Linked DNA regions of Homo sapiens: regions 1, 2, 3 and 4 are each linked to region 5. The links come from fine-mapping of genetic effects on gene expression. A gene starts in region 5. Each other region holds a variant in brackets. All regions are shown on one strand. Distances are between the middles of the regions. Region 1 overlaps KCNJ16 (potassium inwardly rectifying channel subfamily J member 16). Region 2 has its middle 130 kb from the start of KCNJ2. Region 3 has its middle 36 kb from the start of KCNJ2. Region 4 has its middle 360 kb from the start of KCNJ2. Region 5 holds the start of KCNJ2 (potassium inwardly rectifying channel subfamily J member 2).

Evidence for each region. PIP is the estimated chance that this variant, and not a neighbour inherited with it, causes the effect.
Region 1: its variant is fine-mapped to the expression of KCNJ2 in whole blood (TOPMed, PIP above 0.99).
Region 2: its variant is fine-mapped to the expression of KCNJ2 in monocytes after R848 (Quach 2016, PIP 0.95).
Region 3: its variant is fine-mapped to the expression of KCNJ2 in whole blood (INTERVAL, PIP above 0.99).
Region 4: its variant is fine-mapped to the expression of KCNJ2 in blood mononuclear cells (TOPMed, PIP above 0.99).

What each region holds. Positions count from the first base shown.
Region 1 is chr17:70,096,341-70,101,448 of GRCh38, forward strand. KCNJ16 (potassium inwardly rectifying channel subfamily J member 16) reads left to right here. Exons shown (of 4, transcript NM_170741.4): 2 at 4,318-4,426. Among named protein-coding and RNA genes, the nearest start is that of KCNJ16, 24 kb to the left of the region's middle. The variant T/C (reference allele first, on the strand shown) is at 3,162.
Region 2 is chr17:70,300,003-70,305,110 of GRCh38, forward strand. No RefSeq gene overlaps it. Among named protein-coding and RNA genes, the nearest start is that of KCNJ2, 130 kb to the left of the region's middle. The variant C/T (reference allele first, on the strand shown) is at 2,553.
Region 3 is chr17:70,202,502-70,207,609 of GRCh38, forward strand. No RefSeq gene overlaps it. Among named protein-coding and RNA genes, the nearest start is that of KCNJ2, 36 kb to the left of the region's middle. The variant C/T (reference allele first, on the strand shown) is at 3,036.
Region 4 is chr17:70,524,639-70,529,746 of GRCh38, forward strand. No RefSeq gene overlaps it. Among named protein-coding and RNA genes, the nearest start is that of KCNJ2, 360 kb to the left of the region's middle. The variant T/C (reference allele first, on the strand shown) is at 2,783.
Region 5 is chr17:70,166,877-70,171,984 of GRCh38, forward strand. It overlaps KCNJ2 (potassium inwardly rectifying channel subfamily J member 2), which reads left to right and starts at 2,656. Exons shown (of 2, transcript NM_000891.3): 1 at 2,656-2,825. It overlaps KCNJ2-AS1 (KCNJ2 antisense RNA 1), which reads right to left and starts at 2,526. Exons shown (of 1, transcript NR_036534.1): 1 at 85-2,526. RefSeq lists a silencer at 2,252-2,711.

The DNA.
Region 1 (5,108 bases), 71 kb before region 5:
CCATTTTGCCCTTATTCACTGAGAAATATGTGGTCTCTCATATAAGATTGTTTCCATTGAAATTCTGCCAATACCTTTTATTCAACTTGTAAGCATGGAAAAGTATTATGAACTTATTTAATTTTTAATTTATTTAAAAATTTTTATAGTAACATTAGCACCTACCTTCTAAAGTTGTTTGAGAATTAAAGGATAATTTCTGTAAGACAATTACCAAAGTTCCAATATGTAATGCTTATTCAATAAATAATAACTATCATTATTATTACATCATAATAGGTGCCTATATTTCTAAATTAACAATCTTTTGTACTATTGATGTGACAATATGTACATTAAGTGGGGTGAAGAATTAAGTCATTCTCTTCATAATCAGGTGATAACAACCTTCTCCTTTATTGAGAATCAAGCATCTCAGAGCGAGCGTGAATGGATATTAGAGTTTCTGCCTCAGTGTTCTCAACAGCTTCTACTGGTAAAGCAAGTTACAGCTAGTAACTTGGTCAGGGTTTTTGGATATAAACTTTATTGTTTAGAGTGTAGACCAACCTACATTTAAAATATGATACTTCAGAAGTGCAGAAAGGTACGTGACACAGCCAACTGAAGAGGTAACATGTCCTAACATATTAAATTTTCTCTATTCTCTTTTGAACCCTATTACAATCAAAGAAATCTCCATGGTGAAATGCTCATTTTGCAGACACGATATTGTGTAAGTTTTATTTCATAATCACACAAAGGAAAAATTCCTGGGCATTTTATGTGCACTTTTGTTAATGTGATCACAGATACAGAGTTAGCCGTTCAACCCCAAACGAGACATGACCTCACTGGGAGGTTTGTTCGTTCACTGCATTACGGGGATCCACACAAAGGACATGTCAATGGCACAACCCATGCGCCCCCGTCTCCCCACTCTTGTCAGGATTTGTCCTGGGAAGTTTCTAGCAAACATTTTTGGAGCAAATATTTTGTGAGAATGTCACTGTTTTTGTTAGAAAGGCCATTTAGGGGTCTAACTAGGAACCAAGAATGGAATGAGTTACCTTATTAAAAATTTTAAATCAAAAAGTGTTTATATTGTTTGGTGAGTTTCAGTAGAAATTAGAGGAGGAGGTCAGGAGCAGGAGGATGGAGAAATAAGAGCTCCATCAGGAGCACCAGGAATGCTTTTTAAAAACATACATATTCTATTAGATTCTCAAGGAAATGTGACTAAGAACAGGCCCTCATCGCAGCCCCATATAGCATAGTTTTCAATTTTTCTACAGTGACTATTTCAAATATTTTCTGTTCTCTTCAAATCTCTACTCTTGTCTCCTTTACCCACTACCCCTATTTAACAGGGAAAATAAAATCACAAACTTCTTGTCTACCATCCATAGACCTGATTGCATCTGTATCCACTCTTTCCTTGCAAAGAACCTTGACTCTTTCCCATCCTTCTACTCTGCTCCTTCACCTCCATTTTCTTCTCTTTCCTTCATTATGGATTTCTAATTATTGTTGATTCTGACTTCCAAGTCCCTCTTGAATCTGTTTCCTAGGTTATGACCTCCTCCTCACTTGTCTGACCAATCTGTTCTCAACACTAGAGCCAGAATCTTAAATACAGATCTTCAGTGTTTTATCTTTATGCTAATCAGATTGTGTTAGTCTCCTGATCAAAGCTCTTTAATGCTTTCCTAGAATAATACAAATTCTTTAACATGAATTACCAGATGCTGCTTACCACTCCAGCTCTACCTCATACTTCTCCCCATTTTAGATCCCAGGATGCAGCCAAGTAATAATTTAAAAAAAATTTTCCTAGTAACTCTCATTCAGTGTGAACACAGTTTGTCTCAACGAGTTTGGTTCAGTATGAATAGAGTAAGGGTGTAAATTGCACCCTTGGGGAAATGTGACTCAACAAGTAACTACTGCAGAATGGATTCACTGGAGAACAAAAGCAAACATATTCGTGCTTTGAAGAATTTAGGAGTCAATCAAGTGTGGAAAAGGCTAAACATAAAAATAATTTTATTCATGAGTACAGTTCTAACTTGAATATTCATAACATTTTATTAATTTATCATAAGGACTTAAATGCTGAGTTATAGGAAAACAATTTAAAAATTTAAGATAAATCATTTTTGCCATATGCCTCTTAACAAGACAGCAGTTGAAATCTTCTTTCTTTTCCCTTTGATTAAAAAAAAAAAAAACCTTTATGGCCTAGTGGCATATAATAATTGTATTACGTGTGTGTGTGCATATAGATATTATTAAATTATAATGTACACTGATATACGGGCTTTCCCCAATTTTATTTCTAGCACTGTCATCGAAGATTAATTTTTTTCTGACTCAAATATTAGAAGCTAGAAGCTTTTTCTATGACTTTATGTATTTCCTCCACTCATAGTAGCTTTGAAGTTGAATTTTGAGTGGAATGGAACCTTTGAAGTAGAATTTTGAACAGAATCTGGACTGATATGGGGCTGGTCAAACGGCACCTCAATAATTATGAATTAAAATATATAACATTTTTTAAAGACATTCAAAGAACAACCAGGTGTTGAGCAAATTCTAAGTGCCTGAGCCAGCTCCCACTAGCTCACAAGAGCTAACTGTTTACACCTCTTATCAAATCCACATTCTGAAGCCTCATATCAGTGACCTGACATCAGCCATGCGTGGAGTATTTACACCACAGAAATGAAAAACTCTACAAATCAGTCCTTTGATTTCCTCCAGAGAGGCAGTTAAAATGCACCAGCACTCTGCTTCCTATGAATAAGTTGACCATATATCACAGCAGTATTGATTGATGCCAGTTGTACTTCTGACCCATGATTTTCACTTTTGTCCCCACCCTTTTCTCTGTCAAAAGTGACAGATTCAACAATCACTATAGATATCAAGGAAAATAATATAATGGAGATTTTTCACTGCAAGAAATGAAGACTGGGTTAGAAGGTAAAGAAGCAACTACAAAATGTTTATCTTTATGTGAAGAACAGGCTCCTGGAAGTAGTACGAGACTTGTTTTGCAGAGCTTCAGGGGACAGCATGAGGACAGGAAGATCTTGTGAAAGCTATAGGGAGACACATTTTTATCTGAGTTTAAGGAAGGACTTCCTCATGGGTAAGGTCTAGTCATCATAAAATAGGAA[T/C]AGAATGCATTTAGGGGTGAATGAGGTCTTAGTCCACGAAAACAGTCAAGTAGAGACGGACAGCCATCTTGAGGGGTGTTGTGGAGGAGCTGGGGCAATAAATGCTTGGGTGTTAATGCCTTTCTCATGATTCATATTGTGGGTTGAATCTTTCTCATGGCATTTCTTCACTCAGTCATTTTGGCAATCCTCAGAGGGTCTTTGCCTGGTGCTATGTGTGTTTGGGAGTAGATACAAGGAGAAGAAAAAAATAATTCGCTCAAATTCACACAAAAAAGTGACCCAAACCAAAATCCTTATTAAGCCTCACTGTTAAGTTTTAAAATGATATGATGATCACTAATTTGAGAGGAACTACATGTTAGCCAACCCATCACTGATTTATTTGTGATTTCAGATTTTGAAATCTATTAGGATAATCAATTTCACTTCAGCACGGTTTGGTCAAAGAAAGGAAAATACATCAGAGGGATTCAAATAACTTTAGAATCATAAGTAGTGTGAGAGATCTACAGGAGGAAAGTCCGTTTAGCAGTGAGAACTTCAGACACTTCCTCTATATCCTATGGTAACCAGGCAGTTAGAATAACAGGAAGCCCTCAGGCCGGCAAAAATGGCACCTGTGAAGTTTGTTTGGGTCTATCTGAAGGCAGGATTTCAGCAGGGGCTGAGGCTGTACAGAACAACTTAAAATTTTCAGTTGGATAAGAAAAATCGGTAAAACTTAAAAATTGTATTCATTTCCTAATGCCTACGTGGTATTACATATAAGTCAGACAATTGTTTTCTCTATTTCAAATTACTGGATTAGTTTGATTATTATACGGACTATCAGAAGAATAGTGGTACAGCTTTTCTCCAAGATCAACGCCTTTCATTTGTGGATCTTCCATCTTACCTGATACTTCTCTGCCCGTGTCTTCAGTACTGGAATTTACTCCAGTACTTCTTATTTTCTGTTTGTCTTTTCACCACCCGAAAAACATTACTCTCACTCACCAAACTATGTACACCTTTCTTTATATTCTCCCAATCAGACTTAACAAACACTTAGATGACATTTATTTTTGCCTGGTACTGTTTTAAGTGCTTTACAAATATGAATTCATTTACTTCTGCTAAGAGCTAATATATTTCTATTATCTTCCTTTTACAGAATGGGGGATTGAGGCACAGAGTGTTAAAATAGTGAGACACAGGATTCTAACTGGCAGACTGGCACTTTATCTCAATTCTTAACTGCTGTGTTGCCTCTCACTTTAAAGGTAAGAAATTAAACCAATTTTAACATGATTCTCCGAAAAACCAATACTTGCACTCCTTCCTCCATGAAAATGTGCTTTATCCCTACGCATTTTTCCAGAAGTCCAGCTTTCTACTTATACGTTTATATTTTCATAAACTTTGCTACAGAGCAAATTCGGTGTTACAAACATTGCTTCCTTTTGTTCACATTTTACACGTTTACTGCCTCCTTAAATCATTCACCTTCACTGTATTTTAGGAAAGAAATGCTATTTATATATTTTGTGAATCCACAGTCTATTATACATTCTGCTAACTAAGAATAAAACTTGTCTACTTGGTTATTTGAGTCTAGAGAATGATTTTCAACCTGGAGTGACTTTGCTCACCAAGGGACATCTGGCAATGTCTGGTCACATTTTTGGATGTCTCTACTGGGGTTTGGGGTCATACTGGCATCTAGTGGGAAGAGTTTAGGGATGCTGTTAAACTAAATGCCATAACCACAGGTCATCTTCCCACAACAAAGAATTTTCTGGCCCTAAATATTGAGGTTGAGAAACCCAGATCTAGGATATTCTGTGCATTTAAAATGATTCCGTTCAGAACAATTTAGGTACTTTCTCAATAGTACTGCAAAAGCTATATGAAAACTATATGTATATAAAAATTATATCTATCTGTCTCTAGCTACATTAACAT
Region 2 (5,108 bases), 130 kb after region 5:
AAGTCCTAATTATGCAACTTTATACTAAGCCTTGAAATAGGCATTGGGTTTCCTCCAACTTTTTTTAAAATGTTTTTTTCAAAATGGTTTTGCTTATTCTAGGTCGTTTGTATTTCCACATGATTTTTTTGAATCAGCTTGTCAATTGTCACAAGAAGCCTGGAAGGGCTTTTCAAAGTATTAGGTTCAATCTGTAGATTGAAATGGGGAGAAATGGCATCTTAATCATACAGAGACTTCTTTCTGATCAATGAATATGTGATTATTTTTTCATATATGTACCTTTTTAACAATTAGCTCTTCGCACCGATGTTTTGTAGTTTTGGCATTTAAATCTTGCACATCTCTTGTCAAACTTATTTTTAATTATTTCCTGAGTTTGAGGCTATTGTAATTGTTGATGCTGTTCTGGGTTCCATTTTAAGTGTTTATGGTGATATATAGAAATGTAGCATATTATCTTTCATCCTTAAACATTGTTAACCTCACTTCTTAGTCCTGGTAGCTCTCTTGTAAATTCTTTGTTGTTTTCCTATGTAAATGATAATGTGTTCTGTGAACAAAGTGGTTTACTTCTTCTTTTCCAATCTATTGCCTTTACTTATCCTCTTTGTTTTATTGCAGTGACAGAACCTCCAGTACAATGTTAAATAAAAATGGGCAGAGTAAACATCCCTGGCTTTTTCCCCATTGTAGGAGGATTGTATTCAGTCATTCACATTAAGTATGAGGTTCCTTGTAGGTTTTTCATAGATGTCCTTAATTAAGTTCAGGAATTTCAGTCTGTTTCTAGTCTGCTGAAAGTTTTTTAATAAGTAGACATTGAATTTTGTTAAGTATTATTTTGCACGTATCGATGTAGTTTTTCTTTTTACTTTGCTTACACTGTCTAGTGCACTGATTCCTCTCATTAATATTAAACCAACTTTGCATTCCTGAGATCAATGCCAGTATGTTCTGTTATCTTTTTATATTTATTGGTGGATTCAATTTGCTAAAATTATATATGAAAATATTTCTATCTTCAGGGAAAACATTGGCTTATGTTTTGTTTTCATAATGTCATTGATTGGTTTTCTTAACAGGGGAATGCTGGCCTCATAAAATAAGTTGGAGAGTGTTTCTTCCTGTTTTTTTTTTTGTGTGTGTGTGTGTCTATATGATTGGTCTGATTACTATTGCATTTCCTTAAATGTTTTGCTAAAATTTACCAGTGTAACCATCTGGGCCTAGAGCTTTCTGTGTGGGAAAATTTTAAATTTTAAATTTAATTTATTTAATGGGGACAATTTCTTCTTGAGTGAGATTTGATAGTAGCATAATTCAAATGCTTCATTCATTTCATATGTTATCAGATTTCTTGACACAAACATTTTTTGTAATGTCACCTTATCGACATTTTAAAATAAGATCTGTAGCAATATGCAGTCTTTCAGCACTCATATTTGTAAATTATTATACTTCTTGATCAGTATGGATAGAGGTGTATCATTTGATTTTTTTCAAACAGCTTTTGGTTTTATTGTTTTTTATTCCTTGTGTGTTTTCTCTTTCTTTGATTTTTTTTTCTATTAATGTTAGTATTCTTTTTTCTGCTTACTTTGTGTTTAATTTGCTCTTCTTTTTTCAGTTTCTAAGAGGTAAGCCTAGATCATTGACTTGAATCTTTATGTTTTAGTAGAAGCATTTATTGCTGTAAATACCCTTCTAAGTATCACTTTGATTGCATCCCACAAATGTTGATATTTTGTTCAATTTTCATTCAACTAACTGTTTCCTAAATTTTCTTGTGATTTCTTCTTTGACCCATGTATCATTACAGTTTGGTAGTTTAATATACAAAATGTTAGTATTTTCCAAATATCTTTCTCATTTATTTCTAGCTTGATTCCCATGTAGTTCAGAGAACATATTTTGTATAGTCTTAATTCTTGTACATTTTAAAGCTTTGTTTTGAGGCACAGAATATGTTTTGCCTTGGTAAATAGTATGCTCTTAATAATAATGTCCATTGTACTATTGCTGGGTGCAGTGCTTTTCTATAAACCTCAATTAGGTCAAGATGGTTGATAGCGTGGTTTAGATCTTCTCTTTCCTTATTAATTTATTATATTCTTGCTCTATCAATTTCTGAGAGAGGTGTGGTGAAGTCTCCAACTATAGTTGTGGATTTGTCTCTTTCTCCTTTTTTAGTTTTACCTGTGTTTGCTTTATATATTTTGAAGTTCTGGGATTAAGTACCCACATATTTAGGAATATTATCTCTTACTCATTTTTTCACCCATTTATCATTATGCATGGTTCCTTCTTCATGATTATTTTTAATAAACTTTATTTTTTAAATCAGCTTTAGGTTCACAGCGAAATTGAACAGAAAGTACAGACAGTTCCCATGTACCCTTTGTTCCCACACATACAACAGTCTCTCCTACTGTCAATGTCTCACACCACAATGGTACATTTGATATGTACTGAACCTTTTAAATTTTGTAACAGTTTGAAGTCTGCTTTTCTGATCTCATAGAGCTACTTTAGCTTTCCTTTGCTTAGAA[C/T]TTGCATGATCTTTTTTCATCTGTTTACTTTTAAACAATTTATGTGACTGTCTTATTGACAGCATAATAAGTCTTTGTTTTTCCCATCTGACAATCTCTGTTTTCTAATTGGAGTGTATATATATTGAGTATTTAATGTAATTGTTGATATAATATTTGAATCTACTATCTTGCTACTGATTTGTTGTCTTATGTCTTTTTGTTCCATTTTTTCCATATTATTTTGCATTAAGAATTTTTATAATTTTCTTAATTTTCATTATTGGCTTATTTATTTCTTCTTTTTATGTATTTTCCAGTTGCTGTATTATTTAAAATATAGATCTTTAACTTGTTATTTATTTTCTAATATCATCCCATTTATCATAAAACAAAAAACCTTAAAAGATTTTCATTTTCTCCCTCCCATCCCTCATGCTATTGGCATCATAACTACTAAAAATGGGATAAGCTCCACAACATATTGTAGTTTTTATTTAGAAATCCAATTTTTCTTTAAGGAGTACATAAATAGTAAACAAACAATACCATGCTTTTGGTTTTAAAAAATCCTCTTTTAAAAAATTATTTCTGATATTCTTCCTTTTGAATAGGTCAAAATTTTCATCTGATTCTATAATCTTCTGCTAGTGTAACATTCATTGACCTTTTTATAATACAGGAATCTACCAATATAATCTTACAGTCTTTGTGTATCTGAAAAAATTAAAAGGTTTACAGACCCTCCAGTTTTGGAAGATATTTTCACTGTGATTAACTATTATGGATTGAAATTTCCCCCCAATTTTAAAGATGTTGTTCCATCTTTAAACTGGCTTATACAGTTTCTGAAAGAAATCTGTTACTATTCTTATCTTTGCTTTTCTATATGTAATGATTCTTTAGTCTTGTTTTGTCATAAGATTCCCTCTTTATACTTAGTTTTGCGCGCTCTGGCTATGAAGTGTCTGCATCTTTTTTTAAAAACCGCTTGGAGTTCTCTGAAATTTATCAATCTGTGGTTTAATTTTTTTCCCTTAAAATTAGGAAATTCATTGTCTTTCTCTCTCCAAATATCTTTTCTTTTATTGGGACTGATATTGTGTATATGTTGAACTCCTTAATCTTTCCTATAGCTCTCTATTTTTTTCTGTTTGGATAATATATGTGACCAATCTTCAAGTTCTTTGACTCCTTGATCATCATCACATCTGCTGATAAACTCATGGAACACGTCTTTATTTCTGATGTTAGGCTGTTTATTTTCCCCTTAGCATTTCCATTTTATTTTATTTGTAATACTTTCCCATCTGTTCATACATGTTGTTCACGTTTCCCATTAGATATGTTAACATACATCAGCCTAATAATATCTAAATCTCATTTTGTTGACTGCTTTATCTCCGTACTGTTTTTTTTTTTTTTTCTTTCTTCCTGTCTTTTACCTTTGATTAGGACTGTGGGCAGCAGGGATTTCTATCCTTGGTAGCATATGTCCTTCTATAGCAGATGGCTCTTGTTTTGCTCCTCTTTCAGAGGTGGTGGGTTTTTCTCTGAGCCTTGGGGACAGGAAGATTGCCTACCCTACCACAATGACAAGACATTCACTTTGTAGGAGAGGTTTCAAGGAAGTGGGATTTCAAGGGTGAGGTTTCATGCTGAGTGCCACTGAGGAGGGCTCTCCTCTCTTAGGTCTCCTGCCCTGCCCCTAATCTTTCCCAAGAGCACAGTAGAAGAGTCTCATGAAAAGGAAATCGGGAGTGTGGACTCCCTGCAAGCCTGGGGCTCCTAGCTATTCTAACTATCGTGTTGGCTTTTTGAGCTCACTAAAGATCTGGCTGTTTTCTTCTTACCTGCTATTATGGGGGCTCCTTCTCCCTCTCATACTGTGCTCAACTGCTCTTTTGTTCCATCTCTCCTCAGAGGGGCTGTTAGCTGCTACACTTTGGAATTCAATTCACCTGGTTGCTGTGCAACTTCTGGTCTCTAATAAACTCAAAAAAAGGTTATGATTTATAAATTATCTGGCCTTTGTTTTTCTCCTTCTTAGGGTGGAAGCAACATTTTCTTACAGATTTGGCCATCCTAAGTGGAGGAGGAGTATCAGGTTTTGGTATCCATTTTACAGCTTGAATATTATAAGTTCTGTCAAACTAGTTAGAGTTCTCATTTATGTCTTTTTTTTAAATTTCAAGTTTAAACTTTCTATCACATTGTGAGGAAAAAAAGTATTTTTTATGGTTACGTTTTAAATTATTACATTATAATCTTTGATGCAGCTAGATTTCTTTTTCCTAATGATAAATTAATGGCTTCAACATCATTTACTAAAGTATATCAGTTTACTCAATAATTCAGATCATAGAATTTAGCATATATTAAATTCCTACATGTATTTCTTCCTGTATTTATATTTCTAGGCCATAAGACTTTTGGCAGACGCTACTTTTTTTTTGAGTCTTGATCAACCATGTAAATAATTTTGGCTACCCTGCTAGAGAGACCAGATGGAGAGTGTGACATTCTGAAGGGTGAAAGTCCACAAGGGGTGGAAGACCACAGAAAATGAAATACCAC
Region 3 (5,108 bases), 36 kb after region 5:
CAGAGTATCACAAAAGCAGGGAGAAAGGGCACCCGAGCCCATTTCCCAAGACTTAACATTCTAACTCAGAGGAAGGTCTTAAGGGAGGTAGCGGAGGATAAGCAGAAAGTCAGCGATTCTCTTTGCAGTTCTCAAAATCAGACTAATGAAAATAAAACTAACAATAAAGTACTTATGGAGCACAGAACTTGTGATAGACCAGAGAGAGAAGATCAGAAAAACTAAGGTCATGCTCCCAGAGCAGAGAGAAGACAAAGATTATTTGAGAAAATGATCTGAGTAGGAAACCTTTTGTGGGAGAGGGCAAACTGACACTACCACAAAGCCTGATATTAACTAGGTGCTCAGTAAATATTCCTTGAATGATTGACAGAAGGGAAGAAAAAAGGAGGGAAGGAGGAGGGAGAGCAGGCAGTGACAAGCAAGTGGCTGTCCATCATTTACCCTTCCTTTTTACCGTGTTTACACTCTTGCCACATATAGATGCAGTCTGTTCCTTTTTTGGTTTTTCTACCAAACATCTAGAGTCCATGTGATATTCTGGGTGTATCTACATCTGGGCCAGAATAGTACATTGTGTTCTATCTTTAACTCACAGGACATACAGCAATAGTCTAAGTCTCCTGAAAAGCCCTAGAATAGTCAACAGATATAATTTCTCTTTCACACTTTTTTGAGCAATCATTAAAAATAACCGAAGCAAATCTAATTTCAGTGAAGGGGCTATCTTTGGATGCCATGAGAATGTGATAGGAGAATATGTATTTACATTTTAATTAGTGTCAAAATAAATATTTTTATTGGTGTCAAAGTTAGAAACACTTTAACTTTTAAACCCATGCATTCTAAAAGTGACATAGAGCTTACTAATACTTTATAGCGTTTCCTAAACTTCGTTTGGCTTAGTTTTCTCATGTGTAAAATGGTGATAATAGCATCCGCCACGCAGGGCTGGTATGTGGATACAAAGAAAAAATTTATACAAAGCATCTAATACAATGCTTGCTACATTGTAGGGGTTCTAATTTCTCCCATTTTAGACAACCCTAATTTATTAATATTTTCTGTGTCTGTCTTTCCCAGAATACAATGGAAGAGTATTTTTTAAACCACATTAAAGAAATTTGAAATCTACAAAATTTAGAAAGTAAAATCTAACATTTCTAAAATGTTTGAAATAATTCATTAAACGTCAAAACATAATACCGAAAAAGGAAGGGTCATCTATCTAGGTTGAAGTTTGAGGTTCCAGTTTGTTTTTTTATAGTTTTACCATAATTCGAACTTGAACTTTTTTTTCTCTGATGGAGAAATTCTCTGCAAACCTCCCCTGGACACAGAGACAATGCTGTAAGCAGTGAAGCCAGCTTCAAGATACCTGTACTTCAAAATGAAACAGTCTGCAACTTGCTTGTCAGTGGTTCATGGAACAGTTCTCAACCAGGACGTTACCATTCTCCAGGAAGTGTTTGGGGATATGTGAAGATGTTTTTGGAAGCCACAACCATGGAAGGTATTTCTAATATTTATTGCCAGGGAGCCAGGGATGGTATACTCCTGCATCCATTGCCATGGAGCCTGTAAATGGAAAAGCATCCCATCCAATTCGCACACCCATGCATTCAAAAATATTACTATACTCACATATGCCTATGCATATGTGTAGTCATATTTTTAAATATTTATATATGTGTGCAAAACAAAAACAATATCTATTTCAAGATGTTAATATAAATAAACATGCAGAATGATTGATGCCCTTCTTAACAGCTGAGGGTCTTAGGAATTAATCTTGTCTTGCTGAACGTTGATTCTCAAATAAATTGTTCTGCAAAAATGCATCACCTTAGGAGTAGTATGACATGCCCTGCCATGCCAACTCCTATTAAATATTTAGACTGGCAAAAAATATCTAAGAGTCATGTAATTTGCTTTTTTTTTTTTTTTTAACAACAACAAAAGAAAACCCTCAAGTTTTAAAATTCTCTCTCGAAGAAGCCATTGTCAGAGGCCACTTTGGGTTGGGTAGGTAGTAAATCTGTGTGTGAGCCTACATGCCATGCATCTTCTTTAGGAATGGATGCTTTTTAAGGAAAGATTTTTGTAGGTGGTTCTTTTTTGTTCTGACATTGCATTTATATTCGGCTCCACCCCCACGGTCTTTCATTTAGTGGCACTTGCAGAAAGCCAACTCCTAAAAAGATGTATTTTTCCTTGTCCTGTACTGGGGTGGAAACTCTTCTTATTTATATACACTGTCATAAACAGATGCTATAGAAACATAAACTCTTTTTTTTTTTTTTTTTTTGGTAGCACCTTGTCTTTTTTCCTAACCTCATGCAGACATGAAGGAAACTATATCCTGGGAAAATGGAAGATGGCAACACATTAGTGAAAATGTCATTGGAAAGGTGCACTGCCCCAGAGCTATGTTGCTGAAATTTCTAAGCCTTTCTTTAATAGCCTTCTTGGGTCCCTAAGCAGGGAGGTTTTGGATGAATTCTCCCCAGCCGTGGTATGCCATTGTCTGATTCTTCCAGCCAAAATTTACAACAACAAATAAAAAACAGTGGATCCTTACGAGAAATTTTTTCCTGGGAAAGCCATATATTGTGGAAAGGGGGAAGAAATTGTAACATGGACCAAACTCTTTCAGGTCATTCAGAGTATCTATTGTAGCAACTGAAAAGCTCCAAACCAGTCAAAAAGGTGTTTTTAGGTCAGACATACATTATCAAACATTCGCCTACATATTATTAGTTTATTTATGAGAAACAAATATAAAGATGCTTGCATGTATTTCTAGCAGTATCCATATAATTGAATGCTTTACTTTTTAGCAAAAGGACTGTCTTTAAATTGAGTATGAGCCTACCTTCCCCAGAGTCAAATTCTTTATTAGACATATCACAGTATTTTCATACTCATATTCTAAGGCAGATATGGAGTTCCCGAGATCACAGAATGTCAGAATTTACTCAAACATCTGCCCATGCCCCTGGGCGAAGTTACATCAACGATCAGAAATTATGTTC[C/T]ATGTTTCTTTCTCTTTCTGTTCTACCCTGTTTTCATATTCAGTTACACTTCCTGGTTCTATTGAATACTGGAAGTGCCAAAATGTGGCAAGAAAGACAAGTTCTAGCCTTACCAGAAACAAGAAGTATTTAGAGGTAAGACTCGTATTGTGAAATTTCTAATCCAGTTGCACAAATTTAAAAGTTTCTAATTTAAACTTCCCCTACATAATCTCATGTGGGAAAAACCTGTGCTTTTGATGTAATTTAATGAAGAGAGGTTAACTGGAAAGAGGCATTAGGAAAAACATGGAGGACCCACCCAAGGGTAACTGGGGGTACCTCAGGGGCCTGCCATCTCCTGCTTTGTTCTAGTCACACGTCTCAGAATATGTCTGGCATTCTGGGCTCAACAATGTGACTTATGTGACTTATTTCTTTGTTTTGTTTTGTTTGAGATGGAATGTCACTGTGTCACCCAGGATGGAGTGCAGTGGCACGATCTTGGCTCACTGCAATCTCTGCCTCCCAGGTTCAAGCGATTCTCCTGCCTCAGCCTCCTAGGTAGCTGGGATTACAGGCATGCACCACCATTCCCGGCTAATTTTTGTATTTTTGATAGAGACAGGGTTTCACCATGTTGGCCAGGCTGGTCTCAAACTCCTAACCTCAAGTGATCTGCCCGCCTTGGCCTCCCAAAGTGCTGGCATTACAGGCTTGAGCCACTGCGCCTGGCCTCATGTGACTTATTTCTCAAATGTTAAATGAAGTATAATATCTATTTTTATAAACAAATATTTATAGGTATATCAACTTTTTCCCTCAGATTATACATATCATTTTAAAACTATGGTATTCCAAAACCTACAGAAGTCATGGGCTTACCACAGTTTCCAATTTGGTAGCAAACGAGACTCTTTGAACTGTGAGCATAAGGGTTTGTTTTTGTTGTTGTTTTGTTTTTGAGACAGGATCTCACTCTGTTGCCCAGGCTGGAGTACAGTGGCACGATCATGACTCACTGCAGCCTTAACCTCCCAGGCTCAAGTGATCCTCCCAACTCAGCCTCCATGGTAGCTAGGACTACAGGCACACACTACCATGCCTGGCTCATGTTTTGTATTTTCATGGACACGAGATTTCGCCATGTTGCTCAGGCTGGTCTCAAACTCCTGGGCTCAAGCGATCCACCTACCTTGGCCTCCCAAAGTGCTTGGATTCAGGAGTGAGCCACTGTGGCTGGTCCTATAAGGGTTTATTTATTGCAATAAAAAATGAACGTGTCATATTTTGCCTGTAAAGAAGTTTGCATTAAAGAAAGAGGAAGTATCATCTTCCAGCAGTGAAGTATTAAGATTTAAAGCAATATTACTACTTTTCACCTTCTTATCCAAACCAAACCAGATCCAGATCCTGTGAATTAAAATGACCAGAATATTAGCACCCTTAATTATAGCAATCTGTTCCTCTCTTTTTGTTTTCCATGGATTCTGTCCAACCCAGGAATATTATGTTTGCATTATTGCTATAGAATTTGCATCAAAGGCATGGCTTGATTTTTCTTTTTTATGTTCTCTGGAAATCTCAAGCCCCAATGACTAAAATCCTGAAAGGTTTTAAGTTTTTCCGCTAGTTAATACAGTAAGAAATTAGTTGCATCTACATATTTAGATTATTGTAGGAAGTCATACACAATTTTCACTTTGCAAAACATGATTGTGTAGACAGAACCTCATGTTCCAAGTAACTGTTTGTCGTTAGGTAGCTAGTATCATCTGTTCATCTAGCACTCTTGGCCTTTTTTACTCTTTAAACACAGAGCTTCCAAGAAGAGTTATAGGGCAGAGCTACAATGCAGTTATTTATTCCAGCCCTCTCACAAGACAACTATATTTAGGATATGATTTCACCAGTCTTAGACTCTGTACTTTGTAGTCTGGTACATAAACACAATTCAAATGTCCTCACAATTCTTCATATGAGCAAAAAGAGAAAACAGATCTGAGTTAGTTCTATAATTAAAATTATTAAAATATAATATCAGATACAATATATTATGTGTGAGTGTGTGTTTGTGTGAGATTCTTCTAAAAA
Region 4 (5,108 bases), 360 kb after region 5:
AGAAATGCCTGCTTTTGATGTCTGAATCCCACCATTTGAAATGCATTCCTCTGGATTATTAAGATAATAGGTGAGTTTTTGAGATTTTTTTTTTTCCTCAATGGATCTGTCATTAGGGAAAAGTTTTCCACAGAAACAGATATACTTGATAGGAAGGAAAATACAGAAAGACATAATCCATAATCAGCAAGACTAGCACAAAACACACAGTTGAGGTAGGAGGTGGGGACTCGACTCTTGACCAGATTGAAGAATAGCTGAAACAAGGAAGAGGTGAAAGCATCTCTCCAGGAGACACATCCACCAGTGCCATCTCAGTTTTCCATTGTCATGGCAACACCCAGAGTTTACCACCCCTTTCCAAGCCAATGACCTGAAAAATACAAGCTTTTTCCTAGAAAAGTCTGAACAACCTGCCCCTTAATTTGCATGTAATTAAAAGTGAGCATAAATTTGACTGCAGAACTGCCCTTGAGCTGCTTCCCTGGGCACATGGGCTATGGTGTAGGCCTGCTCTGCTAGGAGCAGGACCTCTGCTGCTGCTGCGCACTGCTACTTCAATAAAAGTTGCTGTCTAGGCTGGGTGCGGTGGTGGCTCATGCTTGTAATCACCGCACTTTGGAAGGCCGAGGCAGGCGGATCACCTGAGGTCGGGAGTTTGAGACGAGCCTGACCAACATGGAGAAACCCCATCTTTACTAAAAAAATACAAAAAAATTTAGCCAGGCATGGTGGCACATGCCTGTAATCCCAACTACTTAGGAGGCTGAGGCAAGAGAATCATCACCTGAACCCAGGAGGCGGAGGTTGCAGTGAGTCACGATCATACCATTGCACTCCAGCCTGGACAACAAGAGCGAAACTCCGTCTCAAAAAAAAAAAAAAAAAAAAAAAAAGTTGCTGTCTAACACCACTGGATTGCCCTTGAATTCCTTCCTGGGCAGAGGCAAAATCCCTCCCATGCCGAGTCTCAATTTGGGGGTTCACTTGCCCTTCATCACCATCAGAGGGGCTCTGGTCAGGAAAAATGGCAAGCCGAGAACGTCAATAAAAAGGAGAGAAAAGGAAGATATTGCCAAGTGAATGACTCCATGATAAAATCTTAAGGCCAAGTGAAATTGTAAAAGGGTTTGCTGGAAGAAAAGATTTCAGAACATGAATTATATTAGCATGAGTCCTATCTATTGGTTGAATTAAAAGCAAGCAAGCAAGCAGTAAGTTTCTGGGAAGATGGTTGCAGCAGTGACACAGGTTTTGAATCCCTTTATAAAAATAGGTAGAACAGTAAGAGTAGGAAAACCAAAAAATCAATGATAAAATGATATCTGAGCAAAGACATAAAGATGAAGGGGTTACATAAAGATAAAGATGAATACTGGAGTAAAGAGTAATCCAGGCAGAGTGAAACAACACTTGCAGGAGGCCTGATGCCTGGAGAGAGTTTTGTGTGTCCCAGACCTTGAGGAATAGTGCAGCTAATGCAGAGGAAGTGAGGTTGGGAGGCAGGGGATGAGGTCATTTGTAGTAGGGAGGCCAACTCCTCCCTGGACTTTGCCTTGTATTCTGCATGCAGCGGGAAGCCATAGGGAAGTTTTGAACAAAAGACTAGTAAACTGTGCTTGACAATGATTCCTCTAGCTGTTGTAATATGATATATTTATATAAACGTAGAAAAAGGGTGAGATGGGCGAGGCATGGTGGCTCACGCCTGTATTCCCGCACTTTGAGAGGCCAATGCAAGAGGATCACCTCAGGTCAGGAGTTCAAGACCGGCCTGGCCAACATGGTGAAACCCCATCTCTGCTAAAAATACAAAAAATTAACTGGGCATGGTGGTACGCTCCTGTAGTCCCAACTGCTCTGGATGCTGAGGCACAATAATCGTTTGAACCCGGGAGGTGGAGGTTGCAGTGAACCGAGATCCCGCCACTGCACTCCAGCCTGGGTGACAGAGTGAGACTCCATCTCAAAAAAAAAAAAAAAAAAAGAAAAGAAAAAGGGTGAGTTGATACACACTAAATGAGTTGTAGTTTCAGGGGACAGAAAAAAGAAAATGTATGTTTTAGTTTTTATTTTTTCCCTTTTTTCCTGCAACTCTTGACTTATTTTACTTTTTTCAGTGAGAATGCATTACTATCCTAATAAGTACAGTGCAATGTATATGTCTTTTAACTTCCTGGGTTCCAGCTCACATGTGTTACATAAACCCTCCCCAGCTACCCTTTTAAGTAGTCACTTGGAAACTCTTTTGTGTTCTCACTTTACCTGGGTCAGGCTTCTTATTCTTGGATGGTGTCTGTTATTAAACAGGGTTTTCTCTTTCTAATCTAAATTCTCTTTTCCAGTAATTTCTCTCTCCTGGACACAGTGGCTCAAACCTATTATAGCCCTTTGGGAGGTCAAGATGGGAGGACTGGTTGAGTCCAGGAGTTCGAGATAAGCCTGGGCAACATGGCAAGATCTTGTCTCTACAAAATATAAAAAATAAGCTGGGCGTGGTGGTGTGTGCCGGTAGTCCCAGCTACTTAGGAGGATCACTTGAGTTTTGGAAGTTGAGACTGCAATGAGCTATATTTATGCCACTGCACTCCAGCCTGGGCAATAGAATGAAACCCTGTCTCAAAAAGAAAAAAAAACAAAAAACAAAAACAACAACAACAAAAAACACTTCTCTACAACTTATTCAGTTGTAATTATTAGGAAATACAGAAAACGAGCTTAATAATTTTCCTATAGGACATCTCATCAACTTGCTGTAGGGAAGTGCTAAAAAATGAAGAAG[T/C]CTAAAGATAATTTACAAATTTCACAACTTCACTAAAGGCTGACGCTGCATATCAGGCAGGGGTAAAGAGTGGCAGTAAGAGGAAGAAAGAAGCAATGAAGGAAGTACAGTGGGAACATGTACTTAACTTGGATATAAAAAGAAATTTGACATGTTAGGCAATCTTAAAAAATCACAGGTGATTGACACCGGAAGGTTATTGAGAAATGCAAGGTCCCAGTCTACCACTAATGGCAGCACCCATGAAGGACAATTGAGAAATTCAGTCTGGAGAGGGCTTAACGCCCTCTTACTGGTTTCAAAATGGTCTGCTTCTGTAACAAGAATTATTTTTAGAAATGTTATCTCATATTTTCCATTCTTTTATTATTTCTGTTCCTTCTAATTTTACACCTGACTGCTCTGAGTGGGTGTGTTTGTAGGAGGGGGTGGAAGATTAAAGAAGGAAATGCTAGTTTCAAAACACAAAGGACTAAAAATCTCTTAGACTCAAGTATTAGAAGCTAGCAATCTCTCTTTCCACTAAAACATTCTGCTACCATTAAGTGAACTGATGGGACTCTTACCACAAAAGGAAAACACTTAATAAATTGCAAACTATTACAGAAATTTTTTAATAAAGAGCTATAGCTTTTAAAAATAAATAACGGTTTATTGATAGTGCTTGCTGAGAACCTAGAAGGCATGGAAGATGGAGAAAAGAGGAGAATACCTTTTCTTTCCTTTTTCTCTTCTTCTCATAAATGTCAAGTGTGCCTCTCACTAAAGCAATAGTATCTCATCATCCTAAGAAATGCTTGTTATAATTTAAAACCTGACTAAGAAAACATTTATATTTTAGCTTATGTTACAAACAGGACTGGGAGTGTATAGAATAAAGAAATGCTTTTCTGTCCTTCAGAACTATCTCATGGAAAAACACGCAAATACAAAACCTATATTAAAATATGAACGGAACTAACAAGAAAATCACAAATGTTGATGGAAGGCAGAGTGATCAGAACAATGTCAGTGTGACTGAGATAGATACCGTAGGTAGGGAAAGTCTGTCAAAATTTAAAATAAATGCATTACTCAAGAATGATGAATTTTTGGCTTCTCCTAAAGTCACTTTTTTTCCTCAAGTAGAACTGAAACCCAGGAAAAATATCACAATTAAAAAGTCTCATAAGTTTTCTTAAGCAAAAATAATAACCACAACTACTACCTTAAAGTTTGTTAAGCTCTTTCTAATTTCCAGAAACAATGCTGAGTCTTTGATCTGCTTTTAGTGAATTGATTCGCTCAAAAAAACAATATAAAACAAGAACTGCTTGCCTCTACCTCCAAGTTTTACAAACGGCAATCTTCCAACTGGCTGTGTACATTCCTGTAGGTTTCTAACATGAGCTGTAGGGGTATGAGAAGAAAATAGGAAAGAGGTTCATTTCAATTTTTCTTTATTTCTTTCATTAAATTTTTGTGTATATGAGATATAATATGCATAACATAATAAGTGTATATAGTATGTAAATATAAGAATTTACATTCTTATATATTCTGTTGTGCTTGAAGTATGTAGTGGTAGGAATGTGCAATCCAAGAAGTTTTAAGAAGAACGTTTCAGCTATTAAGACATCTAGCTTCTGTAATTCAGACCACCTCCAAAGTTCCATATACAGATATCTTTCAAAAATTCACCATGTCTATTTTTTATTTTACACACATTTTTGTCAATTTTATTTAGTCAAATAAAAATTTCCTTATAAAATTGTATTTCCACTTCAATTTTAGAAAAATAATTAGTAACTCTGCTATTGTAGCTACTCAAATACTTGTAGATTTGTTCTAAATTGCGAGGGGAAAAAGGGACTACTGGAGGCAAAATGATGTTAGCAAGAAGTTTGAACTGATATGGATGAAAATATTTTTAAAAAACTTACAGAAACCAAATATTAAATCTTTAAAATATTCTATTTGGGGCCAATTAATATGTATCTCACTTTATTGCAGCACAATATATCAGGCAATAAACAAAATCAGGATCTTTCATAATGAAATGTCCCCTTTCTGCTCAGTATTTTCTGTTTAATAAAATAGTAAGCCAGGTGTTATGGCTTATGCTTATAATCCCAGCACTTTGGGAGTCTGAGGTTCGCAGATCCCTTGAGCTCAGGAGTTTGAGATCAGCCTGAGCAACACGGCAAAACTTCATCTCTACTACAAATATAAAAATTAGCCAGAGTGGTGGCACATGCCTGTAGTTCCAGCTACTCATTGAAGCTGAGGTGGGAGGAGGGCTTCAGCTTGGGAGGCGGAGGTTGCAGTGAGCTGTGATGGCACCACT
Region 5 (5,108 bases):
CAAGACTAATGGGGATTTTTGCTAAATAAGGCCTGATTCAGCCAAAAAAGATAGACTCTGAATACAGAAATCTGCATCACGCATCACTTCAAAAGATGTATTAAATCAAACACTGAAAGCATTGGCACACAGAATTTTCCTAATAGGGACATGATGAAAAGTCATTTATTAATTAAAATGCATTTATATTTTCTTTTTTTAAAATGAAGCAATGGGGGTATTCTACGCTACCATACATTTACAAAATTTCATTTGCAAAATTTCATCCTTCATACTTCCTTATTTAGCTAATTAAGGTAATGATTCTACTTAGATTGGAAAGTTCTAATTAAAATCATTAATTTTTCCCGAACCTTCTCCTTCAAGATCTAAGCTTTGCTGCACATCCTTCAGTCTTTGGGAGGAGAGAATGTTGGGGGATGTGCTGCTGATAATTGATGAGAGAGAGCAGGATACATTTATTATGACCTTCCTCCCGCTGCCCAGCTAAATTTATACAGCCAACCATAATCTAATAACTCTGTGTTCCTTTCTTTAAAGATTTTCCTATCATATGAAACTATTTCGGCCTGTGGTGTATTCTTTCTAATTAGAGTAGAATACTAAAGCAAAACCATTTCAATCCAAGTTGCATAAAAATGCCATCCCTTTCCGAGTGACTGGTTTTCAAAGCGAGCTCATTACCTGGAAAAACAACAACAACAAAAGTGTTGCCTCTCTGAATTCACGTGGTTTGGAAAATTCTTAGCCATCTACAGATGCACCAACTGAATCATAATAAAGAAGAGAAAATCTATAAATGATTAATTTCCTTTTTCTATTTAGGCTTAACATGTTTTAAGGGATAATTAAACTTTTGGCCTGTTTCTTAGAAGTCCAGGAGGAAGCATATTTCAGAAGAAGCTTATTGAACTGAGCGGTGAACTCATTCATTATCCTTTGGTTAATACAGAGTGAACTTGTCTACCCTCAGGTTCATTTAGCTTTAGGCTACAGCCTAGATTCTTAGACATCCGTCTATTTTACAGTATTAATTCAAGCTGTTTATAAATAACACATGACTAAATAGATGTTAAAGAAGACCTCCCTTGGGGCAGGCATTATTCCCACGTGCATGGCAACAGAGTTCGTAACAGGGCTTGGTGAACAGTATAATCTCAACACATTAACTGGGACCACATCGCCATTTGGCTATCAGAGCAGCCACACCGAGTGCATCATCTCTTGCACACCCTTTTAATTTAAGTACCTTGCTCAGTGCTAAGAAAAAAGGCACACTTGTTAAGGCAGGAGTAAGTGCGGATCTGCGAAACCTAAGCAAGCATATTTCACCAGCACCTCCTAGGGGCCACGTGTGGATATGAGGATGGGAGGTGGGGACTCGCACAGAACCTTTCCTTGAATTGTCAGTTTCACCTCTCCTACACACAAAAATCCACCCCGACTGCGCCGTCCACAATACCAGCTAGTTTGCTGAATTAGTTCAGCGACTCAAGGAGGCCTTACGAGGTTTAAATAAACTGCACAAAAGACACATTTGATCGCTCGAGAAAATAAACATTTAAAAAACTCAGTGGAAAGAAAGACTCCTAAAATATATCCTGTCCTTTAGGAGCAAAGCTTCGTTAGGACACCGAAGTACTCAGAAATAATAGGCACTTACTCTTCGGTTTACACACACACACACACACACACACACGGATTAGTTTATAAAGTTCCAGGATCCAGACCCGGTTAACACTGAAGTTGCTTTTTAGGGGTCTGCGCGCTCTCGCCTGGCTGCTGGGAAGGAGGGCTGGGAGGCGCTGAAGCGAGGGCAGATCTGAGTGTCTGTAGGAGTTGCTATTCCAAAAAAAATCATTACTCTCTAATTGTTCTGATTTTAGATCAGCAAAGCGTGCCGGGCGGTGGTGGAGAGACTGAGGGCGGACAAGGCGAGAGGGAACGAGCCGTCCACCCTTCGGAGAAGCCTAGGCGCCTTGTAAGTAATTCGCGAACAGTCGGGAGAACAAACAGCCAAGCGGCGCTGCAGTGGCCGCACTTGCGCGCGTCTCAATCCTGGGGGCTCTGCGCGCCCGCCCCAGTCCCTCGCCCCATTGACTCAGTGGCTTCTCCGGGCGCTGCAGCCTCCGCGGGGGGCTTCGAAGGGCCGAGGGGCTCCGGCAGAGAGGGAGTGGAGAGGGAGACGCGCCGGGACCGACGAACAATCCTGCCCCTGCGGCAAAGGTCTCTACCCGGCGCTGGCACCTCGCAGGCCCCTCGAGGAGCACGCAGGGCAAGCGGCCCAAGAGCGGGGGAACCGGGAAGTGTGTGGGGCTCCAGACGGAGTAGGAAGCTTTGCCCAAGGCCAGGCTGCAATCAGGCAGCCGCAACAGCCGGGCGCGGAGCTTCCCACCTGCTGCTGTCCCAGCTGGGCCGCAACTTCCTCCTCCCCGGCCCGGGCCCGACTCCCCGGCCGGGCTCCGAGGGTGGAGGGGGACGAGGCGGCGGCAGGTTCCCTCCGCTGGCAACGCCTCGCAGCATCCTCCCCTCCCCGCCGCGGTTCCCGGGGCCGGCCGCGCGGCCAGGCGCGCTGCGATTGGCCGGCAGCGGCCGGGGGCGGGGCCAGGAGAGCCGGTGTCGCACGGACCGCCTCAAAAGAGCCCAGGATATTGCAGAGCGCACTGGAGCCCTGGCCAGCGCGCAGCCTTCCCGGCGCCGGCGGGCTGGGTCTTGGGAATTCTGGTTTGCTTTGGCTCACTCGCTTTTTACAAACCACTGGATCTTACATGCCTCTGTACCCCCCACTTCCACTCCATGTCCCCATGCTCCTGCGCCAGCAACAGGTAAGGGCTGCTGTGTTTTCTTCCTTTTCGCTCGCTGCCGGTGTGTCCTGGGGAATGGACTCTGGCCGCCGTCCCCTACCCTACCCTGCCCCGCTGCTCCAGAGGTGCCCAGCTGTCACACTGCTGTAGCGCTCACCCACACTCCGGAGTCCCAGATCATGCCTATATAGTTTGTGTGCGCACCAGAACATCCCCAGAGCTAAAAATACTGAGACATGCTTGGAACAGTTGAGCAATAGAAACAGATTTCTCTGCAGCATCTGTTTGTGCTCATAACTTCCAATGCACCAGCTGTAGCGAGATACTGGGTTTGGAGGCAAGGGCGAGAGCGTCTGTGTTCGGTTCTCACTCTAAGTGGGGAAAAAAAGAAAGAAAACGTGGTTGCGGGTTTGGGGGTGCGTCTTGAGCCCTGGTCTTAAACCTTGGCAAAGCTTGGGACTCAGCACTATTCTTGATCCTTGGCTTTTTTTTTTTTTCGTCATTGCTTCAAGTATAGCTGTGAGTTTCAAACAGAGTGAGTGTCTCAAAGTTGCCTTCCTGAAAGAAGAGCGGGAGCCCGAGTTGGATTTGAGCCTGAGGATCGCAAAACTTTCACATTACATATCACTCTCCCCTAACCAATTTGTTATTTTCAGTAATAATGGTATTAATACCTGGCTTGAAGACAGTGTGGTTTTAGGAAAGCAAAATAGTCAAAACGACTTGATTCTGCAAAAAGATTGCATCATAGCGTGGATTCATCATGACAATTGGAAAAAAAATAGGGATAGGGAATGGGCAGTTTAATGTCTGTGTCTGGGTAAGGATATCATAGGATGATCACTAGGATAAAAGGCTGTGAATTCCGACGATTTTCATAAATTCAGATTTTACCTGTTAGGAAATAAGGTGTTATTTGAAAACCTCGGATATGCAAAGAAACCATATTGCGTTTTATCATTTGTTTTCTTTTCACATTAATAATCAATAGGCTGCCAGATTTCCTCTCGCCAACCAATGTTGTGTGTCTGCTGTACATTATCTGTACACTTGTTAGCGTTTTCCTGCTCACTTCCAAATGTTTCATTTCTATTTGCCATTATCTGGAAAAATCCTGGTGCTCAGAAGGGGTAAGAGATGTTAATTGAAGCATGGTGGAAAGGGTGAGGATAAGGTCAAGGCCATTTTACTTAGCTTCCTCCTCTCTCATATTTTAATGACACTTTATTTTTTAATGTTCTTGGTCTCCATAAGAAATATTTGATCTAAACTCATGTGAATTTTGCTTTTAAAAAAAATAAAAGAACACAGTCTTTCTACATCCTTTGGATTCCTGAGTTGTAGAATCTCTGGTTAGCTGTAGCGTCCTTGTATGACTTTTGCGTAGCCTGAAAGATTGAAAACAGCTACCTGCACAGATTAAGTGTTTCAGATTTTTTTAAGTGTATATTTTTATTTACCAAACATGTCTGTTTTTCAGCGTATGCAAATGCTGAGCAGTGCTACAAGCCAAGTGTCGTTGAGTATAAATGTTAGACAGGGGGCTCACACGTAGATAGATGGGTATCCCCCTCCCCTCCCCACTTCCCCCTCCTCCTCCCTCATGTTTATTGAGCTTCTAAGAGGCTGCTTTCCTAGCAGTTGTGCTCACATAGCAACATGTGCCCAGAGCACACTCAGGCTGTTCTATATGGCGTCAGCTGGGGAATAGCTGCTCTAAACACTCATTAGCAGACCTCTCTCTCAGCCCAGTACGTTTTCTTTTGCTATCTTTATTTCCTATCCTTAGAAACTTTCTTATTTATTGCACACCATGACCATATTACAGGACACATTTACTCTCATTTGATTTTTTTTTTTAGTTATTTATAAGCCATATTGGAAGTATTACCTATATAGTCAAAGCAATTTAGATCCCCCATTTGTACCATGTGATCTCCTTGACCTTACATTTATCCATAGCTCTTTCTCCTTTAACATCTACCTAAGTTTAAAACGCTGAACTATTTTTTTCCATTGCTTATGCTTAATTTTGGCTCAGCCTATAAATAGTCTTAACATGAACAGCACCACATGTAACCTCTCAATTTCCCAAAAATACTTTCTACATCATGGGTTATGGCCTGGATAAAAATGATTATTTGTGTCCATGAAATTTACATCTAGACCCTTAAATATTTTGGCTGGAAGGGAGATTTACACATTGTTCATCAAATCAAATTTCAATTCTCTGGATTTGTATCACTTAGTGTTCTCATCTACTCCTCATTGATTGCATCTCAAACATTATTTTGAATATATGCT